Regions from separate parts of the Homo sapiens genome. Here region 1 is linked to region 2. Evidence: fine-mapped expression QTL. A gene starts in region 2. The other region holds a variant in brackets. All regions are shown on one strand. Distances are between the middles of the regions. Region 1 overlaps PSEN1 (presenilin 1). Region 2 holds the start of PSEN1 (presenilin 1).

Region 1 (5,000 bases), 22 kb before region 2:
GGTTGTCTTACAGATCCCCAAATATCCTGTACAATGAAACTTACAAAATATTGCTAAGAGAAATTAAAGAACAAAAACAAAAATAGACAAATGGGCCTACACCAAATTTCTACACACCACAGGAAGCAGTCATCAGAGTGAAAAGGCAACCTACAGAACTGGAGAAAATATCTGCAAATCAGGCTGGGTGTGGTAGCTCACATCTACAACCCCAGCAGTTTGGGAGGCTAAGGCAGGTGGATTGCTTGAGCCTGGGAGTTCAAGGCCAGCCTGGGCAACATGGTGAAACTCCGTCTCTACAAAAAATACAAAAATTAGGTGGGTATGGTGGCGAGTGCCTATAGTTCCAGCTACTCAGGAGGCTGAGGTGGAAGGACTGCTTGAGCCTGGGAGGCGGAAGTTGCAGTGAGCCCAGATTACATCACTACTTTACTCCAGCCTGGGTGACACAGTAAAACCTTGTATCGAAAAAAAAAAAAAAAAAAAGCAAATCATATATCTGGTAAGAGATTAATATCCAGAATACATTAAAAAGTCCTACAATAGCATGAACCCGGCAGGTGGAGCTTGCAGTGAGCCAAGATCGCGCCACTGCATTCCAGGATGGGCGACAGAGCGAGACTCCATCTCAAAAAAAAAAAAAAAAAAAAAAGTCCTACAATTAAACAATTGGAAAAAAACAAATCATCAGATTTTTTTAGATGGGCAAAGGACTTGAACAGATATTTCTTCAAAGAAGATATACAAATAGCCAACAAGCACATGAAAAGATGCTCTACATCTGTGTAATATGGGGGGAAAAAAGAAAAGATGCTCAACATCACTAATCATTAGAAAAATGCAAAAAAAAACTACACCCGTTAGGATGGCCACTACCAAAAAACAGAAAGTAACAAGCGGTGGTAAAGTTGTGAAGAAATTGGAACCACTATGCATTGTTGGTGGGAATGTAAAATGGTGCAGCCACCATGGAAAACAATATGGAGGTTCCTCAAAAAATTAAACTACCATATGACCCAGCAATCCCATTTATATAAATACCAATGAGTATATATAAAAACGAACTGAATTACAAACAAGACCTCAAACAGATATGTGCATAGCCACTTTCACCATAGCATTATTCAGTATAGCCACGAAGTGGAAGTAACCCAAATGTCTACTCACAGATATGTGGTATATACATAACACAGAATATTATTCAGCCCTTAAAAAGGAAATCTTGTCACATGCTACAATATAGATGAACCTTGAGGACATTATGCTAAGCAAAATAAGCAAGTCACTAAAAGAGAAATAATGTATGATTCCACTTACATGAAATATCTAGCCAGCTGGGCATGATGGCTCACACCCATAATCTCTGTATTTTGGGAGGCCAAAGTGGGAGGATTACTTGAGCCCAGGAGTTTGAGATCAGCCTGGCCAATATGGCGAGAACTCGTCTCTACAAAAAAATTAAAAAATTAGCGAGGCATGATAGAGTGCACCTGTAGTTCCAGTTACTCAGGAGGCTGAGGTGGGAAGACAGCTTGAGCCCAGGAGGTGAAGGCTGCCATGAGCCAAGATCATGCCACTGCACTCTAGCCTGGGCAACGGAGTGAGATCTTGTCATCAAAAAAAAGAAAAAAACTCAAGTAGTCCATGTTATAGAAACAGAAAGCATATTGCCACGGGCTGAGAGAAATGGAAAATGGGGAGTTGTTCAATGGGTATAAAGTTGTCCAATGAGTATAGAGTTTCAGTTTTTCAAATTCAAAAGCCTCCCCATGAGAACAGCCTTTGACCCATGACTGATGGAACAGATTGACACATATATGGACAACTGATTTTTGCAAAGGTACAAAGGCACTTCAGTGGAGAAAATAGTCTTTTTTAAAAAACAGTGCTGAAACAATTGAATATCCATATGCAGAAAAATGAACTTTGATCCATACCTTGGACCACGTATAACAATCAACTTCAAAAGGATCACAGACCTAATGTAAAACATGAAACTATAAAGCTTCCAGAAGAAAATGCAGGAAAAAACTCCTGAGAACTTGAAGTAGGCCAAAGTTTCTTAAGATGTGACACCAAAAACACAATCAATGAAATACAAACGGAATTAGCTGGGTGCAGTGGCACACATCTGTAGTCCTAGCTGTTTGGAAGAATGAGGCAGAAGAATTCTTTGAGCTCAGGAGTTTGAGGCTGCAGTGAGCTATAATCACACCACTATACTCCAGCCTGGGTGACAGGGCAAGACTCTGTCTCTTTAAAAAAAAAAAAAAAAATCTGCCCTTCAAAAAGCACTGTTAATAAAAAGAAAAGCCACAGTCTGGGAGAAAACACTTGCAAATTATATATATTACAGAGGACTTGTATCCAGACTATGTAAATAATTCTTAAAATCCATTAAGAAAGCAATTTTTAAATGGGCAAGAGATTTGAACAGACAAGTCACCAAAGATATCAGGATGACAAGCACATGAAAAGAAACTCAACATCATTACTCAATAGAGAAATGTAAATTAAAACCAAAATGAGATGTAACTATATACCTTTTTATAAGAGCTAAAAAATTTAAAAGACTGACAGTATCAAGTACTGACAGGATGTGGAGGAACTGGAACTCATACTGCTGGTAGAAATGTAAAATTATACAACCAGTTTGGAAAGTTCTTTGGTAGTACCTTAAAAAGTTAAATATAAGGCTGGGCATAGAGGCTCATGCCTATAATCCCAGCACTTTGGGAAGCCAAGGCGGGAGGATCACTTGAGGCCTGGAGTTCAAGATCAGCCTGTGAAACATAG[G/A]AAGACTCCATCTTCTATAAAAAATATAAATAAAAACTGGCCAGGTGTGATGGCTCACGCCTGTAATCCCAACACTTTGGGGGGCCGAGGCAGATCACTTGAGATCAGTAGTTCAAGACCAGCCTGGCCAACATGAAGAAACCTAGCCTCTACTACAAATACAAAAATTAGCTGGGTGTGGTGGCAGGCGCCTGTAATCCCAGCTACTGGGGAGGCTGGGACAGGAGAATCACTTGAACCCAGGAGGCAGAGGTTGCAGTGAGCCAAGATCATGCCACTGCACTCCAGCCTTTGCTCCAGATGGAGCAAAACTCCGTCTTAAAAATAGATAGATAGATAGATAGATAGATAGATAGATAGATAGATAGATAGATAGAAAAAAAAGTTAAATATACACCTACCATATTGGATCATATTCTACTCCTAGGTATTTGCCCAAGATAAATTAAAGCATATGCCCATACAAAGAAAGATCTGTACATGAATATCCGTAACAGCCACTATCTGTAATGCTTCAGAACTGAAAATCCAAATATCTACCAACAAGTAAATAGATCAAAAACTGTGGTATACAACTCAGCAATAAAAAGGAACCACATAACATGGACGAATTTCAAAATAATTATGCTGAAAGAAAGAAGCCAGACAAGAGTCTGTATGTTTTGTTTTTTTTTTAGACAGAGACTCACTCTGTTGCCCAGGCTGGAGTGCAGTGGCACAATCTCAGCTCACTGCAACCTCTGCCTCCTGGGTTCAAGCAATCCTCATGTCTCAGCCTCCTGAGGAGCTGAGATTACAGGTGCACGCCACCACCCCTGGCTAATTTTTGCATTTTTAATAGAGAAGGGGTTTCATGTTGGCCAGGTGGCCTCAAGTCATCGCCCACCTCGACCTCCCAAAGTGCTGGGATTACAGGCATGAGCCACCGTGCCCGGCCTGTATGATACTATTTATATAAAATAGTATCATAATAGTAAATGGCTGCGCGCGGTGACAAAACATGGTTGCCTGGGGATGGGGAGGAATCAGGGAGGAGAAGGAGAGATTACAACAAAACATGAAGAAACTTCTGGAGGTAATGGACATTTTCATTATTTTAACTGTGGTGGTGGTTTCAAGAGTATACATATATATCAAAACATCACACTGTATACTTTAAGTATGTACATTTTACGTCAATTATACCACAATAAAGCTGTTTTTAAAAATGTATCTTTCTTGGGCTGGGCGTGGTGACTCACGCCTGTAATCCCAGCACTTTGGGAGATCGAGGCAGGCGGATCATCTGAAGTCAGAAGTTTGAGCCCAGCCTGGCCAACACGGTGAAACCCCATCTGTACTTAAAAAAAAAAAAGTATACAAAAAAATTAGCTGGGTGTGGTGGTGCGTGCCTGTAATCCCAGCTACTCAGGAGGCTGAGGCAGGAGAATCGCTTGAACCCAGGAGGCAGACGTTGCAGTGAGCCAAGATCATGCCACTGCACTCCAGCCTGGGCAACAAAAGAGTGAAACTCCCTCGCAAAAAAAAAAAAAGGTATCTTTCTCAAGGGAGTGTGTAGGTGCTTTGAAAAGTGTCAAATGAGAGGAAAGTGGTACTAGAATACTGAGGGATTTCCGAAAGGAAAAATCTTGGTAGCTAAATATGAGAATGATGACTTAAGCATGCATGGTATTACCTGTAAGACCATTTTAAAAAAAAGGCCAGGCGTGGTGGCTCATGCCTGTAATCCCAGCACTTTGGGAGTCCCAGGCGGGCGGATCACAAGGTCAGGAGATCGAGATCATCCTGGCTAACACAGTGAAACCCCATCTCTACTAAAATTACAAAAAATTAGCTGGGCATGGTGGCGGACGCCTGTAGTCGCAGCTACTCTGGAGGCTGAGGCAGGAGAATGGCGTGAACCTGGGAGGCGGAGCTTGCAGTGAGCCGAGATCATGCCACTGCACTCCAGCCTGGGTGACAGAGCAAGACTCCATCTCAAAAAAAAAAACAAACAAAACTTTTTATTATGGAAAAAGTTCAAACAAATACTGTCAGAAATGTACAATGAAGCCCATGTGCAATTTATTCAACTTCAATAATTATGAACTCATGCTAATCTTGTTTCATCTACTCCCCCGCTCACTTTGCCACTCCAGTATTATTTTGAGGCAAATCTTAGATATATCATTTCCTTCATAAATATTTTAGTATGTATTTCTAAA
Region 2 (5,531 bases):
AGTAGCTGGGATAACAGGTACACGCCAACACACCCGGCTAATTTTTTGTATTTTTAGTAGACACAGGGTCTCACCATTTTGGCGAGGCTGGTCTCGAACTCCTGACCTCAGGTGATCTACCTGCCTCGGCCTCCCAAAGTGCTGGCAGATTACAGGTGTGAGCCACTGTGCCCAGCCTTTTTTTAAAAAAAAAACGAAGTCTCACTCTGTTGCCCAGGCTGGAGTGCAGTGGCGCGATCTCGGCTCACTGCAAGCTCCGCCTCCTGGGTTCACGCCATTGTCCTGCCTCAGCCTCCCGAGTAGCTGGGACTACAAGTGCCTGGCACCATGTCTGGCTAATTTTTTGTACTTTTAGTAGAGACGGGGTTTCACCGCGTGAGCCAGGATGGTCTCCATCTCCTGATCTGGTTATCCACCCGCCTCGGCCTCCCAAAGTGCTGGGTTTACAGGCGTGAGCCGCTGCGCCCGGCCACCCAGCCTCTTTTTACATTTTTTTTCTTTTTTTCTTGACAGAGTCTGGCTCTGTCGCCCAGGCTGGAGTGCAGTGGCGCGATCTCCGCTCACTGCAAGCTCCGCCTCCCGGGTTCACGCCATTCTCCTGCCTCAGCCTCCCGAGTAGCTGGGACTACAGGCGCCCGCCATCACGCCCGGCTAATTTTTTTTTTTTTGTATTTTTTAGTAGAGATGGGGTTTCACCGTGTTAGCCAGGATGTCTCGATCTCCTGACCTCATGATCCGCCCGCCACGGCCTCCCAAAGTGCTGGGATTACAGGGGTGAGCCACCGCGCTCGGCCTTTTTTTACCTTTAAAAATGTGTTTATGGCTAGGCACAGTGGCTTGTGCCTGTATCCCACCACTCTGGGAGGCCAAGGCGGGAGGATCACTTGACTCCAGGAGTTCAAGACCAGCCTGGGCAACATAGTGAGGCTCCCATCTCTAAAAAAATAAATAGCCGGCCGGGCAGGGTGGCTCACGCCTGTAATCGCAGCACTCTGGGAGGCCGAGGCGGGCGGATCACGAGGTCAGGAGATCGAGACCATACTGGCTAACACGGTGAAACCCCGTGTCTACTAAAAATACAAAAAAATTAGCCGGGCGTGGTGGCGGACGCCTGTAGTCCCAGCTGCTGGGGAGGATGAGGCAGGAGAATGGCGTGAACCCGGGAGGCGGAGCTTGCAGTGAGCTGAGATCGCGCCACTGCACTCCAGCCTGGGCGACAGAGCCAGACTCCGTCTCAAAAAATAAATAAATAAATAAATAAATAAATAAATAAATAAATAATAGTATGTTTATTAGAAAATTTAAAATAGGGATAATCACCTTGTGGTTCTCCCAGTCTGCATGCTAATAAATTTGTATGCCTTTTCTCCAAAAGAAAAACAAAACAGGTTTTTTTTTTTTTTGAGACAGTCTCACTCTTTTGCCCAGGCTGCAGTGCAGTGGCATAATCTTGGCTTACTGCAACCTCCTTCTCCCGGGTTCAAGTGATTCTCCTGCCTCAGCCTCGCTTGGGAGCAGCTGGGACTACAGGCGCGCGCCCCCACGCCCAGCTAATTTTTTGTAGAGCCGGGGTTTCGCCGTGTTGTCTGGTCTCGAACTCCTCAGCTCAAGGATCCGCCCCGCGGCCTCCCAAAGTGCTGGGATTACAGGCGTGAGCCACCGCCCCGGGCCTCACATTTTATTTCTATTGGCTAGCGCTGCTCTAAATCTTCTGTTCCTTCTGCTACACCAGGCCTAACACTCAAAATCCCTGCCAACCTTTTCCTTCCTGAAGCTTCCCTCCCCTTCCTCAGCTCTGGCGACCCTGCGCTGTGGTGGTTCTCCAACCACACTCATTCTCCTCAGCTGGCTCCTTGCTCTTCTTCCACCCCCTCGTTGCAAGTGTTCCTAAGTGTTTGCCTTGGCCTCCTCTTCCCCTTCCTTAGCTTAGACTTCTCCACTGCTCCAACATCAACTGGAAATCTATGGAATTGATTCCTGTTTTCAGCTCCAGTCCTGTTCACAGGGCATTTTCACCTGCTGGCACTTCCAAAGTGACACTTCCAAACCACTTCCTCGCCCTCCTCTCTAAACCAGGTCTTTCTTCCTAACTTCCTTATTTCTGAGAATGTCTCTGCCATGTTCTAAACTGAAAACCTCCTAGTCAACTTCACACTTTATTCCCTGATCCTCAATTGGTTCCCATGTCCCGTTAGTGTTTCTTGTAAGCCTCTGCCACCACCGCAGATCGAACTCTAATCACATCTCACCTGAATTATGGAAAAGTCACCTCAATTCTCTCACCCATCCCAGCCTCCACTATGGATTAATATGCCTAAAGCAGAGCTGACCACAACGGTGAGAAGAATCTGAGAGGGAAGCAGCAGCAAACACAAGAGTCACTGGACATGCATGCCTCGAGACAGTCCCGACCAAGGAGAAAGCATCAGACCCCGTCTTCCGCCTCGAACAAGAGGCGTGCGGACTTCGCCCAGAATGCTCGTCGCCCCTGGACAAGGACACACCCGGGGCGTGAGGCGCGGAGTTTCACCAGTTGCTCAAGCAGACCCAGCCCAAGACGCTTCCTCTTTCTCCTACTCCACTCCAGTTCAGACGGCTACTAATCCCGGCCCAAGGCACCTGCGCCCTGAGACGTCTTCGAGCAAACAGCATTTCCGGACCAAGGCTCCCCGGAATCTCTCTCCACCCGGCCGCGCCCGAAGCCCGAGAAACGGGCCGCCCCTCCTGGTTTCCCACACGGGGTTCCCCAGCCCCAACCGGCCGCGCCCCGCCCCTCATCTTTTAGGACACCGGCTTCGCGGCCCGGGCGGCCACAAAGGGCCGGGCCCTGCCCGCGGCCGCCCATGTCCGCGGTGCCTTCCTGGCTTGCCCGGACTCCCCATCACGCACATACGCTTCCCCGCCGCCCCGCTGCCGCCGCGGCTCGTAGCTCAGGTTCCTTCCAGACCAGCCGCTGTTTTGTTTCCGATGTGAAACCGCGGACCCCGGAGCTGCCTGTCCCAGGCCCCGCCCGAGAACCCTCACCGTTGTCGTCATTTCCGGCTCTGGCGTCGTTGGCGGCCGGCCCACGGAGGAGGGGAGGAGCCAGGAGGAAGGGGGCGGGGCCTCCGGCCTGGAGAAACGATTGCGGGGAGAACCCAGAGCTCCACCTGGCCTTCCCCACCTGACGGAATCCGCCCAGAGCGCTGGCGTGGGTTGTCGGGGTTCTGAGGCTGCTCGAGCTGAGGACGAAAGCCCCTATATAAATTGGGCCCAGCGTGTGCTTCTCCCGGCATACAAGCGATGGCCATCCTAAATTTAACACCTGTCATTTCTTTAGGGTACCTATTTGCGAACCAGCTGCATCACAATCAAGAGAATGCTGTTAAAATCGCAAATATCTCTGCCCTCTCCCACCACTCAATGAATCAAAACTTCTGGTGGGTGGCGAGAACCTGAGAAACTGCATTTTAAACATCCTCCGCGATTCTTGGACTCCAACTTTGACAACCAGTCTTTCTAGGTGGCAAGCTAGCTGAGAGCAGAAAATGTGTCTGGTTTGCTGGGTCACTTGATTTTTGCATCTGCCTGCTCTTTGTCCAGTTTTGGTAAAGACAGTACCAATGTCTAATTCATTAGACAGCATACCACACTTACACATATATCCAAAAGCTAAAACTAAAAAATGAATACTACCTTATTTAATCAAGGTGAACGGAGAAATGTCAAACATGGGTATTCAAAAAACCGAAAATGAAATTAACGGTACATGGTATCTGGGCAAGTTACATTCTTCTAAAGTTTCTTTAAAAATCCACCCCCAAGCGGCCGGGTGCAGTCGCTCACGCCTGTAATTCCGGCACTTTGGGAGGCCGAAGCAGGCGGATCATGAGGTTGGGAGTTCTAGACCAGCCTAACCAACATGGTGAAACCCCGTCTCTACTAAAAATACAAAAAAATTAGCCGGGTGTGGTGGCGCGCTCCTGTAATCCCAGCTACTCGGGAGGCTGCAGCAGGAGAATCGCTTGAACCCGTGAGCTGAGATCACACCACTGCACTCCAGCCTGGGAGACAGAGCAAGACTCCATCTCAAAAAATAAAAATTAAAATTAAAAAATAAAATCCACCCCAAGCTATCCCTTCACATTCCTATCGCATCAATCTCCAATCCCTCCTCCCAACCCACTGCCAACCTTGTTCAAAAACATGAGATTCTAATACTTTTTACACACAAAAGCTTCATATTTAAGAACAAAAGTAATATTTTCCATTAGCAGAATGAAAGATAAGTTGTGGGAGAAGGTTGAACGAAAAAAGATGTTTTTAAAATTCTTCACCTCCCCCACTTTAACAAGAGTAGGGATTTTAGTTTGTTCATTTACAAGTGCTCATGCTTGTCAGCAGCACATATACATTTTACAAGTGCTGAGAACAGTGCCTGATACATAACAGTGCCTGATACATACAATAGTTCAGTATTGAACAAATACAGGCTAAAACCCATCTATTTGTGAACTACTTCAATCTGATTGCAGTCCGCTAATATTAATAGGATGTCTTAAAATGCTGATGAACTATTCTTAGAAACAATCTACAAAAATTTTGGGCAAAGATATTCATGGAATATTATATAGCAAAAAATTGGGAAACTAAATATGGTACAATAGGCAGGGTGCGGTGGCTCACGCCTGTAATTCCAGCACTTTGGGAGGCCAAGGTGGGCGGCTCATCTGAGGTCAGGAGTTCGAGACCAGCCTGATCAACATGGAGAAACCCCGTCTCTACTAAAAATACAAAAAAAGTTAGCCAGGCGTGGTGGCGCATGCCTGTAATCCCAGCTACTTGGGAGGCTGAGGCAGAATTGCTTGAGCCTGGAAGGCAGAGGTTGCAGTGAACCGAGATTGCGCCATTGCATTCCAGCCTGGGCAACAAGAGCGAAACTATGTCTCAAAAAATAAAAATAAATAAATAAATAAATAAATAAATAAATAAATAAATAAATAAATGTGGTACAATAAATTATGGTCCACCCACCTCACAGAATGTCATGAAAATTTTTCATGAACGCCTGGTCACGGTGGCTCATGCCTGTAATCCCAGCACTTTGGGAGGCCAAGGCAGGAGGATCACTTGAGGTTGGGAGTACAAGACCAGCCTGGACAACATGGTGAAACCCCGTCTCTATTAAAAATACAAAAATTAGCCCGGCATGGTGGTGTGGGCCTGTAATCTCAGCTACTCAGGTGGCTGAGGCTTGAATCTGAGAAGGAAAGTTTGCAGTGAGCCGAGTTTGCACCACTGCACTCCAGCCTGGGAGACACAGTGAGACTCTGTTTTTCCCAAAAAAAAAAAAAAGTCCTGCAACAAAAAGGCAGTAAGATTTTAAAAAAATAGCAAACCCTAACATTGAATAACCAGCCTTCAGATAATTTTCTTCTCATTTTCTTTATGTCCTACTGTTAGGCCTCTGAGCCCAAGCCTTCACGTATACATCCGGATGGCCTGAGGCAACTGAAGGACCACAAAAGAAGTGAAAATGGCCAGTTCCTGCC

Evidence for each region. PIP is the estimated chance that this variant, and not a neighbour inherited with it, causes the effect. A credible set is the group of variants that fine-mapping cannot tell apart.
Region 1: its variant is the best candidate, but not a certain one, in a credible set for the expression of PSEN1 in whole blood (INTERVAL, PIP 0.51).

The regions. Positions count from the first base shown.
Region 1 is chr14:73,156,456-73,161,455 of GRCh38, reverse strand. The region is part of intron 3 of PSEN1 (presenilin 1); the gene reads right to left. Among named protein-coding and RNA genes, the nearest start is that of PSEN1, 22 kb to the right of the region's middle. The variant G/A (reference allele first, on the strand shown) is at 2,797.
Region 2 is chr14:73,133,942-73,139,472 of GRCh38, reverse strand. PSEN1 (presenilin 1) reads right to left here and starts at 2,966. Exons shown (of 12, transcript NM_000021.4): 1 at 2,890-2,966. RefSeq lists an enhancer at 2,507-2,616 and silencers at 2,787-2,846, 3,107-3,186.